Homo sapiens: one gene and its partners. The protein of the gene in region 1 purifies or fractionates together with the protein of each later gene. This does not show direct contact. Each region holds a gene or a part of one and is shown in the gene's direction. Other genes may lie near its edges.

What was found.
Region 2: the proteins of SLC39A13 (region 1) and SCO1 purify together in Homo sapiens (affinity purification with mass spectrometry; one large-scale study listed by BioGRID and IntAct). This does not show direct contact.
Region 3: the proteins of SLC39A13 (region 1) and TMEM143 purify together in Homo sapiens (affinity purification with mass spectrometry; one large-scale study listed by BioGRID and IntAct). This does not show direct contact.
Region 4: the proteins of SLC39A13 (region 1) and METTL9 purify together in Homo sapiens (affinity purification with mass spectrometry; one large-scale study listed by BioGRID and IntAct). This does not show direct contact.
Region 5: the proteins of SLC39A13 (region 1) and FLG2 purify together in Homo sapiens (affinity purification with mass spectrometry; one large-scale study listed by BioGRID and IntAct). This does not show direct contact.
Region 6: the proteins of SLC39A13 (region 1) and CHAMP1 purify together in Homo sapiens (affinity purification with mass spectrometry; one large-scale study listed by BioGRID and IntAct). This does not show direct contact.
Region 7: the proteins of SLC39A13 (region 1) and FUT8 purify together in Homo sapiens (affinity purification with mass spectrometry; one large-scale study listed by BioGRID and IntAct). This does not show direct contact.

The regions. Positions count from the first base shown.
Region 1 is NC_000011.10:47,411,590-47,414,292, forward strand, and holds part of SLC39A13 (zinc transporter ZIP13 isoform a precursor), read left to right. Parts: intron 1-336; coding exon 337-450; intron 451-756; coding exon 757-878; intron 879-1,810; coding exon 1,811-1,918; intron 1,919-2,007; coding exon 2,008-2,097; intron 2,098-2,695; coding exon of another isoform or gene 2,696-2,703. UniProt on the Homo sapiens protein: Functions as a zinc transporter transporting Zn(2+) from the Golgi apparatus to the cytosol and thus influences the zinc level at least in areas of the cytosol. May regulate beige adipocyte differentiation.
Region 2 is NC_000017.11:10,684,034-10,687,533, reverse strand, and holds part of SCO1 (protein SCO1 homolog, mitochondrial), read left to right. Parts: intron 1-691; coding exon 692-807; intron 808-3,500. UniProt on the Homo sapiens protein: Copper metallochaperone essential for the maturation of cytochrome c oxidase subunit II (MT-CO2/COX2). Not required for the synthesis of MT-CO2/COX2 but plays a crucial role in stabilizing MT-CO2/COX2 during its subsequent maturation.
Region 3 is NC_000019.10:48,339,941-48,343,440, reverse strand, and holds part of TMEM143 (transmembrane protein 143), read left to right. Parts: coding exon 1-120; intron 121-631; coding exon 632-911; intron 912-3,500.
Region 4 is NC_000016.10:21,616,577-21,620,076, forward strand, and holds part of METTL9 (protein-L-histidine N-pros-methyltransferase isoform 1 precursor), read left to right. Parts: intron 1-1,288; coding exon 1,289-1,498; intron 1,499-3,500. UniProt on the Homo sapiens protein: Protein-histidine N-methyltransferase that specifically catalyzes 1-methylhistidine (pros-methylhistidine) methylation of target proteins.
Region 5 is NC_000001.11:152,357,207-152,361,408, reverse strand, and holds the start of FLG2 (filaggrin-2), read left to right. Parts: upstream 1-1,402; 5' UTR 1,403-1,453; intron 1,454-2,502; 5' UTR 2,503-2,524; coding exon 2,525-2,662; intron 2,663-3,761; coding exon 3,762-4,202. UniProt on the Homo sapiens protein: Essential for normal cell-cell adhesion in the cornified cell layers. Important for proper integrity and mechanical strength of the stratum corneum of the epidermis.
Region 6 is NC_000013.11:114,321,003-114,324,502, forward strand, and holds part of CHAMP1 (chromosome alignment-maintaining phosphoprotein 1), read left to right. Parts: intron 1-107; 5' UTR 108-230; intron 231-1,060; exon of another isoform or gene 1,061-2,785; 5' UTR 2,786-2,840; coding exon 2,841-3,500. UniProt on the Homo sapiens protein: Required for proper alignment of chromosomes at metaphase and their accurate segregation during mitosis. Involved in the maintenance of spindle microtubules attachment to the kinetochore during sister chromatid biorientation.
Region 7 is NC_000014.9:65,720,230-65,723,729, forward strand, and holds part of FUT8 (alpha-(1,6)-fucosyltransferase), read left to right. Parts: intron 1-1,545; coding exon 1,546-1,792; intron 1,793-3,500. UniProt on the Homo sapiens protein: Catalyzes the addition of fucose in alpha 1-6 linkage to the first GlcNAc residue, next to the peptide chains in N-glycans.

The DNA.
Region 1 (2,703 bases):
GCGAGACTCCATCTCAAAACAAAACAAGATAAAATAATAATTCCCATAAGACCCAATTTACAGATGGAGAAACCGAGTCTCCAAAGTCATCTGCCAAGGTCACCAGCTAGTGGGTTGGGAGCTGGGACCTGTCAGCTCTTCACCATGACATGGTGGTGGCCCTGTGGGCATTTGGCAGGGTGTGGTGTTTCTGCTGTGAGGTGGGGGACCCAGGAAGAGCAGCCACCCATATCCAGCCTTGCAGGCCCAGAAAGAGCCCAGTGAGTGGGGTGGGATGAAGGTCAGGCCAGGAGCTCCAGCCAGTCAGCCCCCAGACCCCGCATCTCTCCCTTGTAGCTGGGGCCTGGCGCCTGAAGCAGCTGCTCAGCTTCGCCCTGGGGGGACTCTTGGGCAATGTGTTTCTGCATCTGCTGCCCGAAGCCTGGGCCTACACGTGCAGCGCCAGCCCTGGTAAGTGAGGCCACACGCCAGGGGCAAGACAGTGCCAGGAGTGGGGGCCTGGTGCCCACGCCCAGGGATGGCCAGGATGACCAGGAGAGGGATTCTGGGTTTCTGGCAGGAGCTTGCCTGGGAGGGAGGGAGGGTCATTGTCCTGGTCTCTGGGCCCTGGTCCCAGTGGGAGTTCTGGGCCCCAGCTGCCCAACCCACCCTTGTCACTGCCCTGGTGCCCTGGATGAGATCCCATTCCAAATGGCCCCCTCCTATGGCCCTGGCTTGGCTTGGCCTGGCCTGGCCTGGCATTGCCGCCCCCTGCAGGTGGTGAGGGGCAGAGCCTGCAGCAGCAGCAACAGCTGGGGCTGTGGGTCATTGCTGGCATCCTGACCTTCCTGGCGTTGGAGAAGATGTTCCTGGACAGCAAGGAGGAGGGGACCAGCCAGGTGGGCCCCACACTCAAGGGCCTGGATATATCAGCCTCTGTTCTGTGGTAGTGCCCGGGGCCTGGAGGCCCAGGGTCTGAGTTGAGCCCTGAAAAGAGGGGTCTCCTGGCCCTCTCCTGGGAGCTGCGGGAGGTTGGGCCACCTTCTTTGGGACTGACACCATTAGCCCCTGATGTAGCTTGTTCTGGTAGCCTGATGGTGACAGCAGTTGGGGAGGGTTTGTTGAGTTTGGGGGCACCCAACTGATATAGCAGCAGAGGATTCTAGCTAGAAAAAACAGGGGTTCCTATCTTTTTTTTTTTTTTTTTTTTTGAGACGGAGTCTCGCTCTGTCACCCAGGCTGAAGTGCAGTGGCACGATCGTGGCTCACGGCAACCTCTGCCTCCCGGGTTCAAGCGATTCTCCTGCCTCAGCCTCCCGAGTAGCTGGGACCACAGGTGCGCGCCACCATGCCCAGCTAACTTTTGTATTTTTAGTGGAGACGGGGTTTCACCATGTTGTCCAGGATGGTCTCGATCTCTTGACTTCTTGATCCACCCACCTCAGCCTCCCAATTATTATTATTATTTTTTTGAGAAGAGTCTCGCTCTGTCACCCAGGCTGGAGTGCAGTGGCGCGATCTCGGCTCACTACAGCTTTCACCTCCCAGGTTCAAGCAATTCTTCTGCCTCAGCCTCCCAAGTAGCTGGGACCACGCCCAGCTAATTTTTGTATTTTTAGTAGAGGTGGGGTTTCACCATGTTGGCCAGGCTGGTCTCGAACTCCTGACCTCAGGTGATCCATCTGCCTTGGGCTCCCAAAGTGCTGGGATTACAGGCATGAGCCACTGCACCCAGCCCCCGTCTCTCTTTCTCCATCTCTCTCCCCTTCTGTCTGCCCTGGCTGAGTGGGGGGCATCTAATGTCACCTCTCCCTCCTTCTCCTGGCCCTAGGCCCCCAACAAAGACCCCACTGCTGCTGCCGCCGCGCTCAATGGAGGCCACTGTCTGGCCCAGCCGGCTGCAGAGCCCGGCCTCGGTGCCGTGGTCCGGAGCATCAAAGTGAGTGGCCTGCTCAGGGCCCCTGCAGCCGTACTGCCCTGAGTGGCCAGCCCCACTCAGCCCTGCCTCCTGCCTTCCCTCCTTCCCAGGTCAGCGGCTACCTCAACCTGCTGGCCAACACCATCGATAACTTCACCCACGGGCTGGCTGTGGCTGCCAGCTTCCTTGTGAGCAAGAAGGTGAGGGGCTTGGGGCCAGTGGGGCTCTGGCGATTCCAGTGGCAGCCATGTGGATTCCACCTGTGTCTGGAGTCTCTGCTTCTTGCCCCTCCATTGCCAGCGCCCTCATCTAAGGCTCTCATCCCCCATCCTCCCTGCTGCTGTCCTGGCCGCCACTGTTCTCTGATCCTGAGCCCCTGGTCTGTTCCTGTTCCCAGTACTCCTTGTTGGGTGCCTCTGTCAAGCTGCTAGGCGTGGCCCCTGCCTGCTCCTAGATGCTTCTTCCTCTACCTCCTCCCTCTGGCCTCTGGCCTCTGGCCCAGAGGCAGCCTACTCTGCAGCTGGCCGAGATCTTTCCCACCTCACACTGTTCCCCCTGCCTGGAATGTTCTCCCGCCCACGCTTCGAGCGGCTGACGACTCATCCTTGGGGCCTCGACTTACATGGACTCCTCCACCAGGCCTTTGCTGACCTCCTCATCTAAATTTGGTTCCTGGGCCTGCTCCCCTGGGCACTCTATCCATCCTTTCCTTCCCAGCGCCTGTGAGTGTGTGAGTGAGTCCTGTCTCTCCCCTCTATACCGCTAGCTTCGTGAAGGCAGGTTCCTTGTCCCCTTTAGTCACTGCT
Region 2 (3,500 bases), on another chromosome or scaffold:
ACCTTTAGAAAAAGGAACTGCTGTTAAATGTTGGGCTGTCATTTCAGTAGTTTGATGAATCCAGTTGTTTTAAGTGACCTCTACCGGTTCACTTACATGAATTCCAAAAACTTAATAGCAGATACACGCTGTGAATGATTTGCCCTTATTTCAGAACTTTGTTAAGATTGCGTTTTGGGGATGACTAGTATTAATTAACCAGTTTTTTTAAATCAGAAGTAAAGAGTAGAACTTGATACCAGTGTTGAAATTATTTGCAGGAAAATAAGACACAGGTATTTTGACCTGATATGAACTTAGTTATGAAGCAAATTTTTTTCCCCATATGATGCCATGAAAAGTTATAGTATTTAATTTATGATAATAATTTTAAGCTTTAGTATATCTGAGAACTACATGTGACTACTCCTTAAAAATCAATTTAAAATGTGATACAAGTGATTAGAAAATATTCCCTCCAGGTCTTTACTAGATAGTCATAAAAAGATTTGACTTATATATTACAAAGGAGAATTTTCATTTGTTCTTTGTGAATTTCTTCTCCTTTTCCTTTGAATCGTGAAGAAATGTTTGGAGACTCACAGGAAGAAAGTGGCAGTAGAGCTGCTTTACAACTGATACATTTTTTGAAGTAGAGATGGTTGTTTTACTGGCTTCTCATTTTTCACTGTCTCTCTCATTTTTTATTTAGAATTTTCTCCCAAACTGGTTGGCTTGACTGGCACGAGAGAAGAGGTCGATCAAGTGGCCAGAGCATACAGAGTGTATTACAGCCCTGGCCCCAAGGACGAAGATGAAGACTACATAGTGAGTAAATGTTCCAGTTTTAACCCATGGACCAGCTCCCAGATCCCAAATAGTCATAAGGCTTTCAATGACTGACTAGCTTCTGAGAAGAGAGAATACCTAAGATTATTGCAAAGTCCTTAGGAATTTTTTTTTTTTTTTTTTTGAGATGGAGTCTCATTCTGTCATCCAGGCTGGAGTGCAGTGGCACAATCTTCGCTCACTGCAACCTCCGCCTCCCAGATTCAAGCAATTCTCCTATGTCAGCCTCCCGAGTAGCTGGGATTACAGGTGCGCGCCACCACACCTGGCTACTTTTTTATATTTTTTGGTAGAGACGGGGTTTCACCACGTTGGCCAGGCTGGTCTCGAACTCCTGACCTTACCCGCCTCAGCCTCCCAAAGTACTGGGATTACAGACGTGAGCCACCGCATCCAGCCTCCTTAGGAATTTTGAATATTTGAAAGGATAATAGAAGCATGTTTTTTACTTTTTATTTATTTTCGAGACGGAGTCTCACTCCGTCAGCCAGGCTGGAGTGCAGTGGTGCGATCTTGGCTCACTTCGACCTCCGCCTCCCGGATTCAAGCAATTCTCCTCCCTCAGCCTCTCGCGTAGCTGGGATTACAGGCATGTGCTCCCACGCCTGGCTAGTTTTTGTATTTTTAGTAGAGAAGGAGTTTTGCCATGTTGGCCAGGCGAGGCCAGGGGGTCTCGAATTCCTGACCTCAGGTGGTCTGCCCTGCCCACCTCAGCCTCCCAAAGTGCTGGGATTACAGGCCTGAGCCACTGCGCCCAGCCAGAAGCAGTTTTTTAAAAGATGATTGTTTGATTTATATTCACTGTTCTCATAATTCAATTGCCTGTTTTTCTCTTATAGTGGCATATAGGATTTTAGGGCAGTTTAAAACCAGATACTTGGGTGCCATGTTGGAAATAAAGAGAAGCCATCATTTGGAACAACACTTATTTTAAAAAGATTGTGTTGGTTCTCACTGTGTCCCCAGTAGAGGTATCAGAAATTGCTCTTCTGGAGAACCAGTTTTAGGCCATGGAGAACTGCATTTTTAGGTTGAATGAGAATTCTGAAAAGCAAAAGATGAAAGGTTTATTTGCCCATTGACTATATGCCTTGGACAGTTAGGCGTTAAATATGTGCTTTTTAATGATAAGGAACAGAAATTCTGTTGTACTTGTGTAGCTCTTAAATTAACTATCTTCATATTCATCAGCACTGCCCCAGAAGCCTTAAGGTCATGCCCAAGTTACTGTGTTTCTTTTCTTGTCAGTGGTTTCACAGTGAAGCACCAAAAGGCATTAGCACCACCACTATCCACCAATTTTCCTCTCAATTTGGACATTTTTCTCCTATCATATGAAGAGTCGGCGTTGTATTTTAGCATTATTTCAGTATTTTTCTTAGTTGTCATACTCTGTTTTTTCTATAATATTGTTTGGGCAGAGTAATCCTAAGAGCCTTTCTAGCTGTGAAGCTGTCTTTGTAGAAAGAAAGATGGCCAAGACCCTGAGTCACTGATCCAGCAGCTCCCCATGGCCCATCCCAAGAGTTGAGATGCAGAGGGGATGGGATGTCTCACTGCAGTGCTTTGTCTCAACAGCCAACTATGATTTCTTTGTCCCTTTGAACCTGGAACGTGTGTGCCCCTGGAGCCTACAGCCTGAATTAAAAGCAAGGTTCTGGCCTGTTTGCCTTAATTAAGCCTACACAGTAATCCTGTCTTCCAGATGTGGTGCCTCGTAGAATTAGGGAAACTTGGATTCCTTGGAGTAAAAGATGAGAAAAATGAGCACTTTTCTTTAAGCCTTAATTGTAAGGAAAGTAGAGGGACCCTCCTCTGTTTTCCTCTTGCTGCTTCTCTAGCAGAATGAGAGAAGAGCAGAGAGCCACAGTGGCCAAAAGAGGAAACCATAGGAAAAGGACTTTCCGGACTTCTGTCTTTATAGAGAGTTGTATTAACTGGTTTTGAGTTTATCCGATGATGACAGCAGGAATAGATGAGCTCATCAGTCTGATTTCCAGCATTAAATGAGTTATATTAAATTGTTTAAATGTATACAGTCCTAAACTAGGTAACACTCCATAGTCTTGATGCTTAGAACTCATAACTCAGAGTCAGAAAGTCAAATCAGAAAGCAGTTGTACAAATAAACCCAAACAGCCTGCAAAACTTAAATTGAAAACATTCAGTTACATTGACAAGAGATTTTGCTGAAACCAAAGTGCTGCTCAGGGCAAGAAGGGAGGGGGTTTTGGTCAGACTGCTATCACATACCCAACTCTACTCAACTGCCCCTCTGCATTTTCTATTTAAAATACTTTGAAACCTTTAATCGTGTAGCCTGCCTTGCCTGGTTAGTGTTGATTTGGCAAGAATGTATCATATTCATGTCTGCCTGTAACAGCAGTGGGCAGCTAGGTGCCAGTGAGATCATGGAGCAAACACAAGCCTGGGCACTGAAATTTATACTCACAACACAGATAATCCAGAATATGGATATTAATGTTTTTAATTACAAATGAAAACAAAAATATGTAAGTCTTATGGAAACTTCTTGGACCTTGTAGAATGTATCTTTGGCCCCATTTTGAGAAATACTGGCCTACTGCCATAAGAATTTGACTTTTGATGAGATTCGATGAGGAATTCATGCTGTACATTTGCTAAATCATCCAATAGGGGGAGACATTCTT
Region 3 (3,500 bases), on another chromosome or scaffold:
TTTGGATCAGTATGTCTACATTCACTTCTGGGCCCTGGGCCAGCGAGTCGGGCAGATGCCCCTGAAGTCCAGCGTGGGCTCCAGGCGTGGCTTCTTCACCAAGCTGCCCCCTGCGGAGAGGTGAGGCGGCCCTTGTTCCCCAGCTGCAGCAAGAGGGAGCAAGGTTAGAGTCAAGAGGGGACTGACAGGTCAGTGTCTGGTTTGGGTGTCTGGGCCCCAGGCGGGAAGTTGAGAAATGGGAGGCGTGACTCATCCAAATGCTGTCTTTTCTTCTCAAGGGAAAGTGAGTACTACACTTGATTCCCAGGGGAAGAGAAAGGATGGGGACAGTTCTCCCCATTTTCCAATAAGGAAAACTGAGGCTCGGAGAGGGAGGTCCACATTCTGAAGATGCGGCACGGCCAGGATTCCAACAAACAATCTGCACGTCCAATACCAGGGATCGATGGCGCGATTGAACCGATCCCCTGTGGTTGGACACAGCTGATCCCTGGTTTCTTCCCCATGATTACTGAGTCGCTTTTAAGATGGTTGTGCGACTGTAGAGCCAGAGTGAGCGTCCTAGGATTGGAGGGGGCTCCCCGGGCAGTGCAGTCCCGATCCTGCTCCTGCCTCTGTCTCTGTCCCTCAGGAGATACTTTAAGCGGGTGGTCCTGGCAGCCCGGACCAAACGGGGACACCTGGTACTGAAGAGTTTCAAGGACACGCCGCTGGAAGGCCTGGAGCAGCTGCTGCCGGAGCTGAAGGTGCGCACGCCCACCCTGCAGCGCGCCCTGCTCAACCTCATGCTGGTAGTCTCCGGCGTGGCGATCTTCGTCAACGTGGGCATGGTGGTGCTAACCGACCTCAAGGTGGCCACCTCCCTGCTGCTGCTGCTCTTCGCCATCTTCATGGGCCTGCGGGCCTCCAAGGTGAGCATGCGCCTGCCACGCCTCCTGCGGCCCTGCGCTGTGGGGACCAGGTCAGGCCCCCTGTAGTTGTCTCTGTTTCATGCATTGTTCCTGCGTCATGCTCTCCTCCCTCCCTCCCTCCCTTCCTTCCTTCCCATTCTTCCTCTTTTCTTTCCCTTCCCTTCCCTCCCTGTCCTTCCTTCCTTCCCATTCTTCCTCTTTTCTTTCCCTTCCCTTCCCTCCCTGTCCTTCCTTCCTTCCTCCCTCCCTTCCTCCCTTCTTTCCTTTCTCCCTCTCTCTCCTCCCCTTCCTTTTCCCCTTTCCCTTCCCTTCCTTCTTCCCCTTCCTTCCGCCTCCCCTCCTCTCCCCTCCCCTCCCCTTCCCCTCCCTCCCTCCCTTCCTTCCTGTTCCTCTTTTCCTTCCCTTCCCTCCCTCTCCCCACCTCCTTCCTCCCCCCTTCCCTTTCTCCCTTCCCTCCCTTCTTGCCCTCTCCTCCGCTCCCCTCCCTTCCCCTTCCCTTCCCTACTTCATTTACTCAACACCCCTTAGGGGGGTTTCTTAATCTCTCTGAGCCTCAGTTTTCTCATCTGGAAAATGGGGATGATAGCGAGATCTGCCTTGTAGGGTTGTGAGCATGAAATGAGTGAGTCTGTGAGAAGCACTGGGCAGTGCTCGGCTCGTGGTAGGGGCTACATAAGGGTTGACAGCCGCTCACTGAGTGCCGGCTTTAGGGGCGCTTTAGTGATGCGGTGAAGGGGGTGTGTTCTGGAAGCAGACTTCCTGGATTTGAATCTGACTCTACTCTCTTCTCGCTGTGTGATCTTGAACAAGTTGCTTAACCTCTCTGTGTCTCAGCTTCAAAATCTGCAAAGTAGGGATGATGGTGGGACCTAACTCATAGAGGTGTTGTGGGGATTAAATGAATTAACATGCACAGTGCTGAGAATAGAGCCTCCCACATGGCACAGGAGGTGCTATGTGAGAGTTAGCTATTACCAGGATGATGATTATTATCATTACTAATTGGGCTGTTTGTTCCAAGTCCCCATCCTGACTGGGTATCATTATCACTGGGGGAGCTGGCTGACAAATGCAGCCTCCTGGGCTCCAGTCCTAGTGGACTGAATTGGAAACTCTGGGACTGGGGCCCAGGGAACTATATTTTTAACAAGCTCCCTTTTGATTCTGCTACATGTGAGTGCCGGGCTGCCTTGAACAGTTGCACAGGTTGTTCACCATCCAAGGATTCGTGGCCCAGGGGCCAGGTGGAGGCTGACACCCAACTTGTGCTCCGCTTGCCAAAATGCGTGTCCTGTCTCGAGGCTGAGTCAGCCCAGAGGGGAGCTGCCTTTTACTGATTCTTCCCAGGGTTGGCACCGGCCCCAGGAGTGTAGACTGGTGTGAAGCATCTGTCGTACGCGATCATTCACCTGCTGGCTCATTGGTTTTCAAGCTGTTTTCAGCCATGCTGACAGGCTCTTAGGAAGGCTGGTAATAAATCCCGCAGATAATAGCCAGGCTGTGCCGCCTGAGAGGGTGCTGGCATACTTGGGCCAACAGAGGGGCTGGGGAGGGAGCAATTTCTGCTTGGGACCAGGGCTCAGGTAGGATCTGAGGAAAGCTCTGGAAGACAGGAATTGAGCCTGGTGGAGAAAGAGCCCACGAGCTCAGCCTGGCGTATCTCATGGGGCTGGATCCAGTGAGCAGGGTAGAGAGGGGAAGTCCCAGAGGGTGGTGAGGGCCTTGAATGCCCAGAGTGGTACCCAAGGCCTTATCCTCAGAGCCGCAGGGAGCTGTGGAATGGCTGTAAGCTGCAACCATGGAGGGCAGAGGGGAGGGGCGAGATGAGAGGCAGGGAGGCCCGGTGCCTCTGGGGAGAAGACACTGAGTCCCAGCCCACGGTGACTATTGCCTCACCCCTTGCTGGCCCTTGGGGTGCTATGGAGCCTGTCAGGCTCTGAAAGACCCTATTTCAAACCCAATTCACACCAGGCATGGTGGCACATGCCTGTAGTCCTAGCTACTCAGGAGGCCAAGGTGGGAGGATCGCTTGAGCCCAGGAGTTGGGAGTCCAGCCTGGGCAACATAGTGAAACCCCAAATCAAAAAATAACAATAAAAAAGCCCAGCCAGGCGCAATGGCTCACACCTATAATCCCAGCACTTTGGGAGGCCGAGGCGGGTGGATCACGAGGTCAGGAGTTCAAGACCAGCCTGGCCAAGATGGTGAAACCCCATCTCTACTAAAAACACAAAAATTAGCTGGGCATGGTGGCACATGCCTGTAATCCCAGCTACTCTGGAGGCTGAGGCAGGAGAATCACTTGAACCCAGGGGGCAGAGGTTGCAGTGAGCTGAGATGGCATCACTGTATTCCAGCCTGGGCGACACAGTGAGACTCCATCTCAAAAAAAAAAAAAAAAAAAAAAATCCCAGTTGACAAGTTAATTTAGTGTATTCATGAATTCATGAGGTATTTCCCCACGCCTTGGGGTGAGGCCCAGCCTTTACATGTGGGCCCTTGGCTGGGTGCAGTGGCTCATACCTGTAATCCCAGCACTTTGGGAGGCTGAGGCAGGCAGATCACATGCAGTCAGGAGTTCGAGACCAG
Region 4 (3,500 bases), on another chromosome or scaffold:
CCCCTCAGTCTCTTTTTTCAAAGGCATCACTATGGTTTTGAGTGTTTTCTAGGACCTTTAGAAATAATAGGACCCAGACAGTTGTAACCATATAAACTGACATAAGTACGAATCTACTTTAATGCATATTAACCGACATCACAAGGACCACTCTTTTCCCTCTTTTCTCTAGTGTCTCTTAAAAATCTGTTATACTAAAGCTCTTTTTTCCTGATCCATGGTTTAGTTCCATATTTGAAATCACTTTTTTTTCCTATTTGGTTTCTCTGCTACTGTGGTCTGGCTGTGTTAGCTTGTCATCTTTTTCAACTGATAAACATGTTTTCTGTTACTCCTTCCACTTTTCCTTCCTATTTTGACTTAAGTTCTTCACATTCATCTCTTACTTATTTCTTCTTCCTTCCCCTGTCATCCTTTCCACTTTCCACCTTTTATTTCCCTCCTCCCATGCTTTTTTGGGGCATTATTTGCAACTCCAAAGACAAATGGTATCTGGAGGCATTTTCTTATTTTATTAACTTTGTCTTCTAATCATAGAAATGACATAAAAGATAATATCTTTGCTGGGCACGGTGGCTCATGCCTGTAATCCCAGCACTTTGGAGGCAGAGGCGGGTGGATCACGAGGGCAGGAGATCGAGACCATCCTGGCTAACATGGTGAAACCCCTTCTCTACTAAAAATCCAAAAAATTAGTCAGGTGTGGTGGCGGGCGCCTGTAGTCCCAGCTACTCAGGAGGCTGAGGCAGGAGAATGGCATGAACCTGGGAGGCGGAGCTTGCAGTGAGCAGAGATCGTGCCACTGCACTCCAGTCTGGGCGACGGCAGAGCGAGACTCTGTCTCAAAAAAAAAAAGAAAAAAAAAATTAGGCCAGGCGCAGTGGCCCATGCCTGTAATCCCAGCACTTTGGGAGGCCGAGGCGGGTAGATCACCTGAGGTCAGGAGTTCGAGACCAACCTGGCCGACATGGTGAAACCCTGTCTCCACTAAAAATACAAAAAATAAGCCGGGTGTGGTGGTGCATGCCTGTAATCCCAGCTACTCAGGAGGCTGGGACAGGAGAATCGCTTGAACCCAGGAGGCGAAGGTTGCAGTGAGCCGAGATCATGCCACTGCACTCCAGCCTGAGTGACAGAGTGAGACCTTGTCTAAAAAAAAAAAAAATCTTAACCATGTAATAAGTGATTATGGTTGTTGGTGCTGAGTCACTATATTCACTTTGTGTGTGTATGTGAGGGGTGCTTAATTTGCATAGACACTTCCATTTTTGTCCTTTTTTTCTTTCAGGTTGCTAGGAAGAGGCTCAATGTTTGTGTTTTCACCAGATCAGTTTCAGAGACTGCTTAAAATTAATCCAGACTGGAAAACCCACAGACTTCTTGATTTAGGTGCTGGAGATGGAGAAGTCACAAAAATCATGAGCCCTCATTTTGAAGAAATCTATGCCACTGAGCTTTCTGAAACTATGATATGGCAGCTTCAGAAAAAGAAATACAGGTATAATTTTCTTGGTTTTAGATGCATTTCTTCTTGAAAGTATATTATTTAAAGGATATGAATAAAAAATGATCTTCCATGATTAGAAATTTAAAAAATCATCTCATACATAATTAACTGGAAATGTAGAGAAATAATCTTCTGGTAGCAGTATTTTTCTGGAGCGGAGGGGTTGGCACTATAGGTAAGAAAAGCACTAGCGAGAGACAACTTGGAAAAGGCAGATCAGAAGAAGGGACTTCTTCCCTAATCAGAATGTGGCATTCTCAAAAAAAATTTTTTTAAGTAGTGGTAAAATACACATAGCATAGAATTTACTGTTGTAACTATTTTTAAGTGTACAGTTCAGTGGTATTAAGTACATTTACATTGTTGCATAATCATCACCACTATTCATCTCCAGAAATTTTTGTCTTCCGAAACGGAAACTCTGTACCCAATAAACAATAACTCCCCATTTTTCCCTCCTCGTAACCCCTGACAACCACCATTCTACTTTGTCTATGAATTTGACTATTCTGGGTATTTCGTATAAGAGGAATTATATACATTAGCTCCTTGTGACTGGCTTATCGCATGTAGCATAATGTCTTCAAGGTTTACTCATGTTGTACCATGGGCCAAAATTTTCTTTTCTTTTCTTTTCTTTTTTTTTTTGAGATGGAGTCTTGCTCTGTCACCCAGGCTGGAGTGCAGTGGCACGATCTCGGCTCACTACAACCTCTACCTCTCAGGTTCAAGCAATTCTCCTGCCTCAGCCTCCCAAGTAGCTGGGATTACAGGCATATGCCACCATGCCTGGCTAATTTTTTTGTAGTTTTAGTAGGGATAGGGTTTCACTATTTGGCCAGGCTGGTCTCGAACTCCTGACCTCAAGTAATCCAAAGTGCTGGGATTACAGGTGTGAGCCACTGCGCCTGGCCCAAAATTTTCTTTAAGGATGAATGATAATTCGCTGTATGCATGTACCACATTTTGTTTACCCATTTATCTGTCAGTAGATATTTGGGTTGTTTCTACCATTTGGCTGTTGTGAATAATGCTGCTATGAACATGGGTGTACAGATACCGACTTGAGCCCCTACTTTTACTTCTTTTGGGTATAGACCCAGAAGTGGAGTTGCTGGATCACATGGCTAAGTCTGGGTTTAATTTTTTGAGGAATTGCAATACTTTTCCATTGCTGCTGCACCATTTTACATTCCCACCAGCAATGTAGTACAAGGGTTTCAGTTTCTCCACTCCTTGACAATACTTGCTATTTTCTGTTTTGTTTTGCTTTTAGTTTATAGTCATCAGTGTTAATCTTGGTTTTAAGGTCATCTGGAGTTTGAAAGACTAGGAAGAAGGGCCTTTTTTTTTTTTCTGGAGATGAAGTTTCACTTGCCCAAGCTGGAGTGCGGTGGCGTGATCTCAGCTCACTGAAACCTCCACCTCCTGGATTCAGGCAATTCTACTGCCTCAGCCTCCTGAGTAGCTGGGACTACAGGCACATGCCACTATGCCCGGCTAATTTTTTTTTTTTTTTTTTTTTTGTATTTTTAGTAGAGACAGGGTTTCACTATGTTGGCCAGGCTGGTCTCAAACTGCTGACCTCGTGATCTGCCTGCCTTGGCCTCCCAAAGTGTTGGGATTACAGGCGTGAGCCACTGCACCCGGCTGGAAGAAGGGTATTCTTATTTCAGTATGATTTATTGATTGGGAGATTTCTATATATTGGCTCAGTGCAGAATCAGGGAGGTAGAGCTGGAGTCAGCCTTTCTCTGTGATATTTTTGGAAGTCTGGTTAGCCTTAGAAAGAAAGGAGAAGAAATTATGTAATCACTCACTTTCCTATCCACATGTTTCTACTTTTACAGATTAATCCTAGAGATAGAGCATCAGTGTAGCTTTTGGAGCAGGACTGGTTTGAGCATTTGCAAAACATGGAGATTTTTAGCCTGGAGAAGGGAAGATTTCTGTGAACAGATACGCTGTGGGATTTTTATATGGAAGGAAAGGA
Region 5 (4,202 bases), on another chromosome or scaffold:
TACCTTATCTATAAAATGGGGTTATTTTGAGGAATAAATAGATAAGCATGTAAACCTACCATGTATAGAAGATAGTAAGCACTTAGCACTTAATGGTAGCTGCTATCCTCCTCATCATCATCATTATCACCTGGTAGCAAAGTACAGCAGAATTGGCTCTCCATGCTTAAGACTTACAGCTCTCTGATTATTTTTGTTACCCTCAAGTGTATTTGATATACTTTCTGTACATAAGTGAACATTTTCCCAAGGGTCCAGGCCCTAAACATGCCAGACTACCAGTGGATCGCAGAGTGCTGGAAGAAAGCTCACTCTAAATTCACCCTGAACATATCTGAAAACATTATTTTTATATATAGCCAATTACACTTTTCTAGCCTAGAAATGAGCCTTCACAAGGTCAGAGAATGTTTCCTCTCTTCCTAACAGCACTCTGTATGTTACTTTTTTATATTATTTGCGTTTGAGTGGGCCTTACACTCCTAAAATGGTGCATAATTTTTGCATGATAGTTATATATGATAAATACACAGAGGTAAGTTAGTATAATGGTAAACAGCAATTGCAATAAGGTAGATACAGGTTCAACTTCTGGTTTCTCTGCCTACTAGCTATGACCTTGGAGAAGATCCTTATGCTTCCAGAACCTGTCTCTATAAAATGGGATAATAAATACATATCTCGTATGAAGGTTGTGAAGATTAAATGAGGTGATAAGATCTAGTATTTGGTAACATAATATGGTAACTATAGTTAACTATTTATTGTATATTTTTAAATAACTAAAATAGTAGAATTAGAATGTTCCTACTACAAAGAAATGCTTGAGGTGCTGGATACCCCAATTACTGTAATTTGATCATTACACATGGTATGCCCATATCAAAACATCACATGTACCCAACAATTATATACAACTATGTACCCATAACTAAAAGTGCAGATTTTTTAAAGATTGAGATGGTTTGTTTAAAGTATTTAGCACATAGTAAATTCTCAATAAATGTCACTTTTTATTATTACAAAAAAGACATGAATTAGATGAACCTAGTGGCTCAGGTTCATTTTCAATTAAATAAGCATTTATTGTGCACCTTCCAAGTATCTTACACTCTGCTACTTTCTGTGGGTACTAGTTAAAAGAAATGTATAACATGAGTCCTCTAAAACAAAGTCTGTGCTTTTCACATGTATATGACCCTGAAAAAAAAGGTATCTTGCAACCATGTCCTCGTACTGGAAGGTGGGGCTGGTACTAGCCTTTCTGCAATCATCTGTAGATAACAATGTGAAGGAGGAAGGTAAATATGTAGAGGTGGAGTTAGGTTTGATGGAAAATGAATCACCTCATTCACTATAATCACTATAAGCTATATAAGGGTCATTATCCCAATCCATCGTCACCCTGCAAGCTGCATCAGGCTTTATCCTACTTGTTCCTTTGGTGAACCAGGTGAGAGAAAATTCATCCAGCTACATTTATGAATATTTGGTGTTGTCCATAGTAGAAGTCTAGGGATATAAGCTAAGGCAGAGTTCATGTATATTTTGCCTTTCTTTTCTTTTTTGTTTCTTTCTTTCATTTTCTTTTCTTTTTGTTTGCTTATTTGTTTGGTTAGTTTAGTTTATTCTGGGGCCTTTTTGTAGTTAAGTTCATTTTTATGGAGAAGAATAATGCAAGTAAAAGTTCACCTTCCTCTAGGCCATTCCACAGTCTGTTCCGAGTCTTTTTCCATGCCCTCTTTTCTGGGCTGTCCAGCTCAAACTGGGAGGCAGCTGGGTCTGTTGCAGAGTCCCTTCCTTATTCAGTGTTGGTTCCCAGAGCTCCAAGATCTAATTATCCACTAGTTAAACTGCTGCCTGCATTGCTGAGCTCTTCTTCTTGATTAATTAAAGAAAACAGTGTTTGGTCAAGTGCTTGACATTAAGAGAGTTCCTAAGCTCTACTGAGTTCTACTGTCTCATGCCTATGAAACACCAAGCTATTTTGAGCCCCTTTGCCCATTTTTAATTTGCTGAAGGCCTTAAGGGTCCAGTTTAGCTTCTGGTGCCCAGAGGATAAACAGATGTGCATGGTGGAAGGTCTGTCACTTTTGACTCAAGAAAAGCAGTGAAACTAGAAAGAGAGATTGAGGCAATGGTGTCTGGCTGGTTCTGGAAATTTTGGAAGCCTTAGAACAACACCCAGAATGCCAACACACTCAAAGTGTAGAGATACTATGTAGAGACTATACTTACCCATGACAGGAAATATAGAGACTTGAGGTCTATTCTCAGTTGAACCAGTAACATGCCAAGACTTGATCACAGAAAAGTAACTCAAAGTTAACAAAGTTAATTTTCATTGTGTTAAACGGGGTTGTATCATCCCTGGCCCATTCTTACGTTTTGAGATTTAAAAAACAAGAGGTTAAAAAAATCATGCTGGTTATTATTAAAATGAAAATTGCTGATAAAAGGAGAGAATATGAATAATAGGGTTCTTTGTTTTTCTGTGTCCAGGTTCACTTAAACTTGCAAAAAGATGACCGACCTCTTGAGAAGTGTTGTCACCGTAATTGATGTTTTCTACAAATACACCAAGCAAGATGGGGAGTGTGGCACACTGAGCAAGGGTGAACTAAAGGAACTTCTGGAGAAAGAGCTTCATCCAGTTCTGAAGGTGAGAGCCATGTGCCAGAACTGAAGGCTGCTGGAGTCCTGTACAAGCTCTGTTGTATGACCCAGATCAGCTAAAAAGTGCACAGCCCCAGTGAACTCTAAGCAAACTCTATGAGTGGTATTTTGGGGATGCCAGAAAGTCTGTTAAAGCAGCAGATATTTTAAAGAAAGTGAATGTTTCGTCCTCACTTTTCCACCTATGCACTCCTACCTCATAGACTCTCAGACTTTCTCATACACCCAGGCTTTTCCTTAGAAAAAGCAGAAAATAAAATTATACTAGGACACGAATTAATAAATTATCCTATCAAATGGAAAAAAAAGTATAGAAAGGGAAATCATCTACATAGGGAGTTGACAAAATAGCCATGATTAAGAATCAAAAATAAAATGCCAGCATTTTATTCCATCTACTTAAAAAGGACTCAGCTAGGCGCGGTGGCTCATGCCTGTAATCCCAGCACTTTGGGAGGCCGAAGTGGGTGAATCACAAGGTAAGGAGATCAAGACCATCCTGGCTAATACGGTGAAACCCCATCTCTACTAAAAATACAAAAAATTAGCCGGGCGTGGTTGCATGCCCCTGTAGTCCCAGCTACTCGGGAGGCTGAGGCAGGAGAATGGCGTGAACCTGGGAGGCAGAGCTTGCAGTGAGCAGAGATCGCACCACTGCACTCCAGCCTGGGCTACAGAGCAAGACTCCATCTCAAAAAAAAAAAAAAGACTCAGTTATTAACTTCAAAATAATAGATGATAAATTCCAACATGGAAGATATTAACATGTAATAGTTACAATTTATGTAAAACTTAGAAATACCAGTTACTGAACTTAGTTTATTCCACTCCTTCCTGTAGGCCTTACCTAAGCACTTAATCCTTTAGCCTAAATCCTTGAAATGTCTTCTTCTGAGGATCCCAGTAGTCTTTATTTTCTATTAACCCTTAACATTTACTGGGTTCTATTAACCTAAAGTAATCCTTTATTGGACTAAAACTACATCATGTCAAACATCCATAATTTCACAGCGCTATTTAAATGTGTTAGTTGAGTATGCAGGTTAGGCTGACCAGGTCTCCCTTGGTGTGTCACTCATATACAGAACCCAGATGATCCAGACACAGTGGATGTCATCATGCATATGCTGGATCGAGATCATGACAGAAGATTGGACTTTACTGAGTTTCTTTTGATGATATTCAAGCTGACTATGGCCTGCAACAAGGTCCTCAGCAAAGAATACTGCAAAGCTTCAGGGTCAAAGAAGCATAGGCGTGGTCACCGACACCAAGAAGAAGAAAGTGAAACAGAAGAGGATGAAGAGGATACACCAGGACATAAATCAGGTTACAGACATTCAAGTTGGAGTGAGGGAGAGGAGCATGGATATAGTTCTGGGCACTCAAGGGGAACTGTGAAATGTAGACATGGGTCCAACTCCAGGAGGCTAGGAAGACAAGGTAATTTATCCAGCTCTGGGAACCAAGAGGGATCTCAGAAAAGATACCACAGGTCCAGCTGTGGTCATTCATGGAGTGGTGGC
Region 6 (3,500 bases), on another chromosome or scaffold:
GTTAGGGCAGGATGGTGAGAGAAATACACAGAATTCCATTACAGGGGGCACACACGATCACAGATATAGTTTTGATTACTTTTCTTTTTTTTTTTTTTTTTTTCCAGGTTCAACTTCTCATCTTTGTTCTTCTTCATATACTATAGGCTGTTTGCTGTGGTTTAGTCAAAAAGCCATGTAGAATGCCTGCCTTTTGAAGACCACTTTTAAGGTGTCTAGTAAGACAGCAGGTAAGTCTAGTAGGGAAAGCATGCTTAGGAGAATATTTTATGAGGAGAAAATTAAAAAAAAATACCTGGAGTTCTTGAGGAAAATCTCTAAAAGTGTACACGCCCTTATGGATATAATGTGTGTTGTGTGCTAGATATACATAATTTGGGATATGAGAAGTGAATTCTGTAGCATTCTTTGTAGATTTAAGTATGAGATTGGCCTGAAGAGCTGGTGGTAGGCAGCGGGAAGAGGAGGGATGGCTGGGAGGAATGGGGAATGGTAGGTGAGTCAGACTCAAACCCAGCACACCTGAGCTCTTAGTCTCTGTTGTAATTACAATATGTAATATAGTGCTCTTTAATATTAGCTTGGCTGTTCATTATTGCCAGTTGGGCTGTTCATTATTGCCTCATGGGATTATTGAGACATATCCTACGTTTTCCCCTAAAGTCTTCTAGTTTTATTTAACAATGGGCTCTGAGACGGATGGTTAACCCATTATTTTTCCATGCATTCAATTACGTTTGTAAGTTAAAGATCATTTTCAGAGATTTTTCATCAGTACGGAATTATTTATTTTTCTTTTGTTACAGTCCTGGCCCCAAAACAGTTTTCTAAAATACAGGATAACTGCTGGGCAACTCAGAAAGAGTAAATAGTTTCCGAAGAAAAGTATTTGTTTCCTCAAGTATCTGTCACCTTTTTAGCTTTAGATCAAAAAATAAAAAAGGCAAATGATATACCTTGGATAAAAGTGTTAGGAAGCAGTATTGCCAGTGAGAACATCTTTAAAAACAAATTATCAAAGTTAGAAATGTTAATTTTTTTTTTTTTTTTTTTTTTTGAGATGGAGTCTTGCTCTGTCACCAGGCTGGAATGCAGCGGCATGATCTCAGCTCTCTGCAACCTCCGACTTCTGGTCCAAGCGATTGGCCTGCCTCAGCCTCCCAAGTAGCTGGGACTACAGGCACACGCCACCACGCCTGGCTAATTTTTGTATTTTTAGTAGAGATGGGGTTTCACCATGTTGGCCATGATGGTCTTGATCTCCCGACCTCGTGATCTGCCTGCCCGGCCTCCCAAAGTGCTGAGATTACAGGCATGAGCCACTGCGCCCAGCCTATACATTTTTTTAAAATAATGGTTTTGTAATTAATAAAGGGAGAGCCTGCATTTCTAATCTGTACTGTTCTTTGAGGAGGAGTAAATATCATTACCGTCAATAAGGGAAGGTGTTCAGTCTTTCTCATTAAAGAGAAGCACATTAACACAATAGTGAAATACTAGCTTTCACCTAGGTTGTAGCAAGGATTAGGAATTTATAGGAAATTGTCTCTCATATATACACGTTGTTATGCAGTAATAGAAGTTTTTGAGAGTTTGGTAAAATGTATCAATTTTACACACAAATGGCCAAGTAATCCATTGCTAGGAATTTTCCCTGCAGAAATACCCTCACATGCACAGATAAGTACAGGGAAAGTCAGTGCTTATTCCATATGTAAAAATGTCTTAGAGATAAATTCTAAATGAGAGTAAGTTGCCAGATAATATGTTTAATATCCCATTTGTGTAAAGCATGTGTGTTGATCAATATATGCTTAGGACATTTCTTCCAGGACACATGAGTACACTGGCTACCCCTAGGGACTGACACTCTGTATCTCGTACTGTGTGAATGTGTTTTTAACTGTGAGCTTCTATTCCCTTTACTACTTAAGAAGACTGGTTTACAATTTTTTTAAATTCATGTTTTCCGGCAACTGTGTTCCAGCTGCTGGGGTGTCCTCTGATTTGCCCTTTGGTTGGTATGCGCCTTCACATCATTCAGGATCTCTGCTGGAATGTCCCATGCATAGAGGTCTTTTCCAACGGCCTCTACATCACTCTCCACCTTATCTTTCCAACTCATGAACGCCATATTGCAAAGCACTGCTTTAAGCCTAAGTGCCTAGAACATTGTAGGACACAAAGTTATTTATTTATTAAATGAATTAATAGAATACTATATTGGGATAGATTAAACATTACAAAATATGTTGACATGAAATCAAGCCAGCATCATGTTTTAAAGTCATCTTTTTATAGCTAGATTTAATTTATTAAGTGCTTTCTGCAAAAGTTTTAGTCTCTTGTTCATCCTTAAATAGCCAAGATTTAATTTTGATATTCACTCATCTTTGTGTGCTGAGGACTTTTGTACTCGGAGTTTGAGAGTCAAAGTATAAAGCACATGCAATAGCTAATTCTAGAGTCAGGCTCACATCACTGATAGTCCTATAGCCTGGACCAGAGAAAGTCAGGTAACTTCTCTGAACCTGTTTCTTCATCTGTAAGTGAAAATAATAGTTGAGTCATATCATTAGGATTAAATGAGATGATGTATGTGAAACTCCTAGCAGAGTGCCTGGGACTGTTCTATATCTCCTTTTTCTTCAAATTCTCCCTAGAGATACTATCAAATAAAGCACGCACTGTTCTAGACTTAAAATTATGCAGTTATAGAATGGACTGACAGCATTTTATTCAGAATTACAGTTCATGAAAATAATTTATTCCTACTTTATTGCAGCAGTATTGAAAGTTTTTAAAGAATATAACCGTGTGTGTTGGTAACAGACAGAAGAATGGAAGCATTCCAGGAACTTCGTAAACCATCAGCACGTTTGGAGTGTGACCATTGCAGTTTCAGAGGCACAGACTATGAAAATGTACAAATCCATATGGGTACCATCCATCCAGAATTTTGTGATGAAATGGATGCTGGTGGGCTAGGCAAAATGATATTTTACCAGAAAAGTGCAAAGTTATTTCACTGCCATAAATGCTTCTTCACCAGCAAGATGTACTCTAATGTATACTATCACATCACATCCAAACATGCATCCCCAGACAAATGGAATGATAAACCAAAAAATCAGTTGAACAAAGAAACAGATCCTGTGAAAAGCCCTCCTCTTCCTGAACACCAGAAAATACCCTGCAATTCAGCAGAACCAAAATCCATACCTGCCCTTTCAATGGAAACACAGAAACTTGGTTCAGTTTTGTCTCCAGAATCGCCAAAACCTACTCCTCTTACTCCCCTGGAGCCTCAGAAACCTGGCTCTGTTGTTTCTCCTGAGCTACAGACACCTCTTCCTTCTCCTGAGCCTTCAAAACCTGCCTCTGTTTCTTCTCCTGAACCTCCAAAATCAGTCCCTGTTTGTGAGTCTCAGAAACTTGCCCCTGTTCCTTCTCCAGAACCACAGAAACCTGCCCCTGTATCTCCTGAGTCAGTAAAGGCT
Region 7 (3,500 bases), on another chromosome or scaffold:
TCCCTATGGCCACCACCACTACAAGCCCACAGGGATTATTGCCAGGCTACGGTTCATGTTCACTTAAGGCCCAAGGGCTCTTCAGTCAGCTTGTGGTGAATGTTGCCAGGCCTGGGACTTGCCCTTCAGGGCACTGGGCTCCCTTCTGGCCCAGGCAGGTCCAGGAGTGCCATACAAGAGCCAAGGTCTGGAATCAGGAACCCCAAGAGCCCACTTGGTGCTCTGTTCCACTGTGGCTGAGCTGTTATCCAAGTTGCAAGATAAAGTCCTCTTTACTCTTCCCTCTCTACTGCTCAAGTGGAAGGAAGGAGTCTCTTTTGGAGCTGTGAACTGCACTGCCTTAGATTAGGGAAAGGGTGGCATAAGCACTGCCTTAGCCACCTCAGCTGGTGGCTCACTAGGTTACGTGCCCCCTAGGTCCAATGACTCTCGAACCCAGCACAGCACTAAAACTTGCCTAGAAATTACAGTTCTTGTGGCCTAGACTGCCTTTCAAGTTCATTTAGGGCCCCAGGACACTTCAGCCTATAGTGGTGCGGCTTGTTGAAACTCAGGCTCCAACCGCTGGGATGGACATTTCCCCTCTGGCTAGGGCACATCTAAGTTCTCCCTCCATGGGCATTGGCTGAGTTCTTTGCTAATGGCCCGGGTGTTGCTTGCCAGTTGGCCTGGTGTTGCTTTCTGCTGTGACATGGTAACACTGAGTTCCAGTGCAAAGTCCCACAATCACTGTGCTCCCCCTCCCCCAAGCACACAGATTCTTTGCACCACACGGCCACTGCATGGGGGTGGAAGGGGTAGTAGACAATCGAAAACTGTCTTTCCTACTCTCTTCAGTGTCTCTTTCAGCAATATGAAGTTAAAATCAGGTACTGTGATCACTTACCTGATTTTTGGTTCTTGTGAAGGTGCTTTTTTGTGTAGATAGTTGTTAAATTTGGTGTTCCTGTGGTGGGGGCAGCGATTGGTTGAGGCTTCTATTCAGCCATCTTGCTTCATCTCCCTCCAATAGATTAAAAAAAAAAAAGATTTTAGAATTATCTAATTTTTTTCTTTAAAAGATGTAGATGATTGGCTTATAATTATAATCTTCAGGTGTTTCCAGAGTCATTGTGTTCTGTCATGAAAGTAATGCAAGAGCAATTTTGCTGTAATGAAAAGCTAGAAGTTTCGAGAACACTTTATTTTCTAATTCCAAAACAACAACAAAAAATAGAACTTTGCTAGCTGGCTGTGTCTACTGTCATTCTTTGATTAGATACTTTGAGTTCTGCATACCATGAGGTGTTGGTATGATAGCATGTTATGATAGAAACTTTTAGAAAAGACCAGAGACTTGAGAGATAGACTAACCTGCATGTGAAATTCACCTCCGTCACTTTTGCTCTGGTATTTCGAGCAAGTTATTTAACTTCCTTTGTAAAGTGAAGATTATACTTCTTTAGAGTTGCTGTGAGGATGAAAGCACTCAGAATAAGTTCTTGTTGAATGGTGGATGTATAAGGAATACCATGTGGTAATGATTATATGTTTCAATATTGTCAGGTGAAGTGAAGGACAAAAATGTTCAAGTGGTCGAGCTTCCCATTGTAGACAGTCTTCATCCCCGTCCTCCATATTTACCCTTGGCTGTACCAGAAGACCTCGCAGATCGACTTGTACGAGTGCATGGTGACCCTGCAGTGTGGTGGGTGTCTCAGTTTGTCAAATACTTGATCCGCCCACAGCCTTGGCTAGAAAAAGAAATAGAAGAAGCCACCAAGAAGCTTGGCTTCAAACATCCAGTTATTGGGTAAGAATCTGATTTTTTCCCTCAAACTGTGATATGTAGTAGTTAGGGTTATGTATCTTTACAATATATTGTGAATTTTACAATATGTAGTTCAATTTTTATAGTCCCACCAAAGGACAGAGGTTCTAGAGCTATCCTAAGGTCACATGGAGACTATTTTTTTTTGTTTGTTTACTTAGAACAGCTAAGAAAGTTGCTTAGTAGTGCTCTATTACTGTCTCCAGTTCTCCTCTTCCTTTGCTTCTTTCTCCTCTTATCACAGCTCTCTTTTGGCTTTTGTTGTTGTTATTTTTGAGATAGGGTCTCACTCTGTCACCCAGGCTGAAGTGTAGTGGCTCACTGCAGCCTCAACCACCCTGGGCTCAAGTGATCCTCCTACCTCAGCCTCCCAAGTATAATAGCTGGGTCTAAAGGCATGTATCACCATGTCCAGCTTCTTTTTATTTTTATTTTCATATTTCCCACCCCACATCTTTCCTTGTGTCTTAGTCTTCATATGTAGAGGAGTTATTGACCCCATTCTAAGTGTTAGACGTAAAGAAGGTACATGTGAAGTCAGAATATCAAATCGTATTTCTTCTCATGTAACTTTTGATTGAAATTCAATGGAATCATTCGTTCTGCCCACTTCATCTCTATAGAGCCCACTGAACAATTCCAATTTCCCCAGAAAAAGAGTGATTATGAAGGATGTGGGAAGGAAAGATGATAGAATAGATGTTCATATGATTGTATCCACATCTGGGTTATAGTCTGGAATGCAAAGCAAAGAATAGCCGTGAAGATGGCAGAGTAACTCTGGTGAAATCAAACCTTCACTCCAGATTCATAATAAAAAACTGGCCTTAAGTTTGGCCCATATACTGTGACCTAAAGGCGTATAAGTCTACCTTTTTCTACATATAAATAGTGATTTAGTAATTTGGGGGGAGGGGAAGGCAAGATTTAAGGAGGGTGTTTTAATTTATGAAAATAAACTGTTATTTTTATTTCCATTAATATTGCTTTGGGGCCAGGCATAGTGGCTCATGCCTGTAATCACAACACTGGGAGGCTGAGGCAAGTGGATCACTTGAGCCCAGAAGTTTGAGAAAACTCAACATAGGCAACATGGTTGAAACCCCATCAATTAAAAAAAAAAAAAAAAGCAAAAATTAGCCAGGCTTGGTGACACATGCCTGTAGTACCAGCTGTTCGGGAGGCTGAGGTGAGAGGATCACTTGAGCCTGGGAGGCAGAGATTGGAGTGAACCATAATCACGCCACTGCACTCCAATGTGTGCAACAGAGCAAGACCTTGTCTTAAAAAAAAAAAAATTACTTTGGAAACACTAAGATGGGAGGAGAGAGGAGAAAACTGTGGAAGTCAGTGCCTTATTCAGTACAGGGAAGTGTGAATCTGTGTCCCCAATTTTACAATTTTGGGGCTTTTCTTAAATATGACAGGTGAAATTAATATCTGCTGTCATTTGATATGGTGAAAAACAGAGAAAGGAAATGCATTATGCCCACAACAGAAGGGCTGGAATCGGTTTCATTTACCTAAAATAGTAAAAACCGTTAAAAGGTTTGCTGGTCTTAACGGTGCTGTAAAAGTTTATCCAGGTCTATGTTTTCCTGGGACAACTTTTAAGTTCTACAAGCTGGCAGTTATGGTGACTCTCCAGGGTAAAATAAAGAGGAAAACCCTTGGTATCAGAACTTTACAA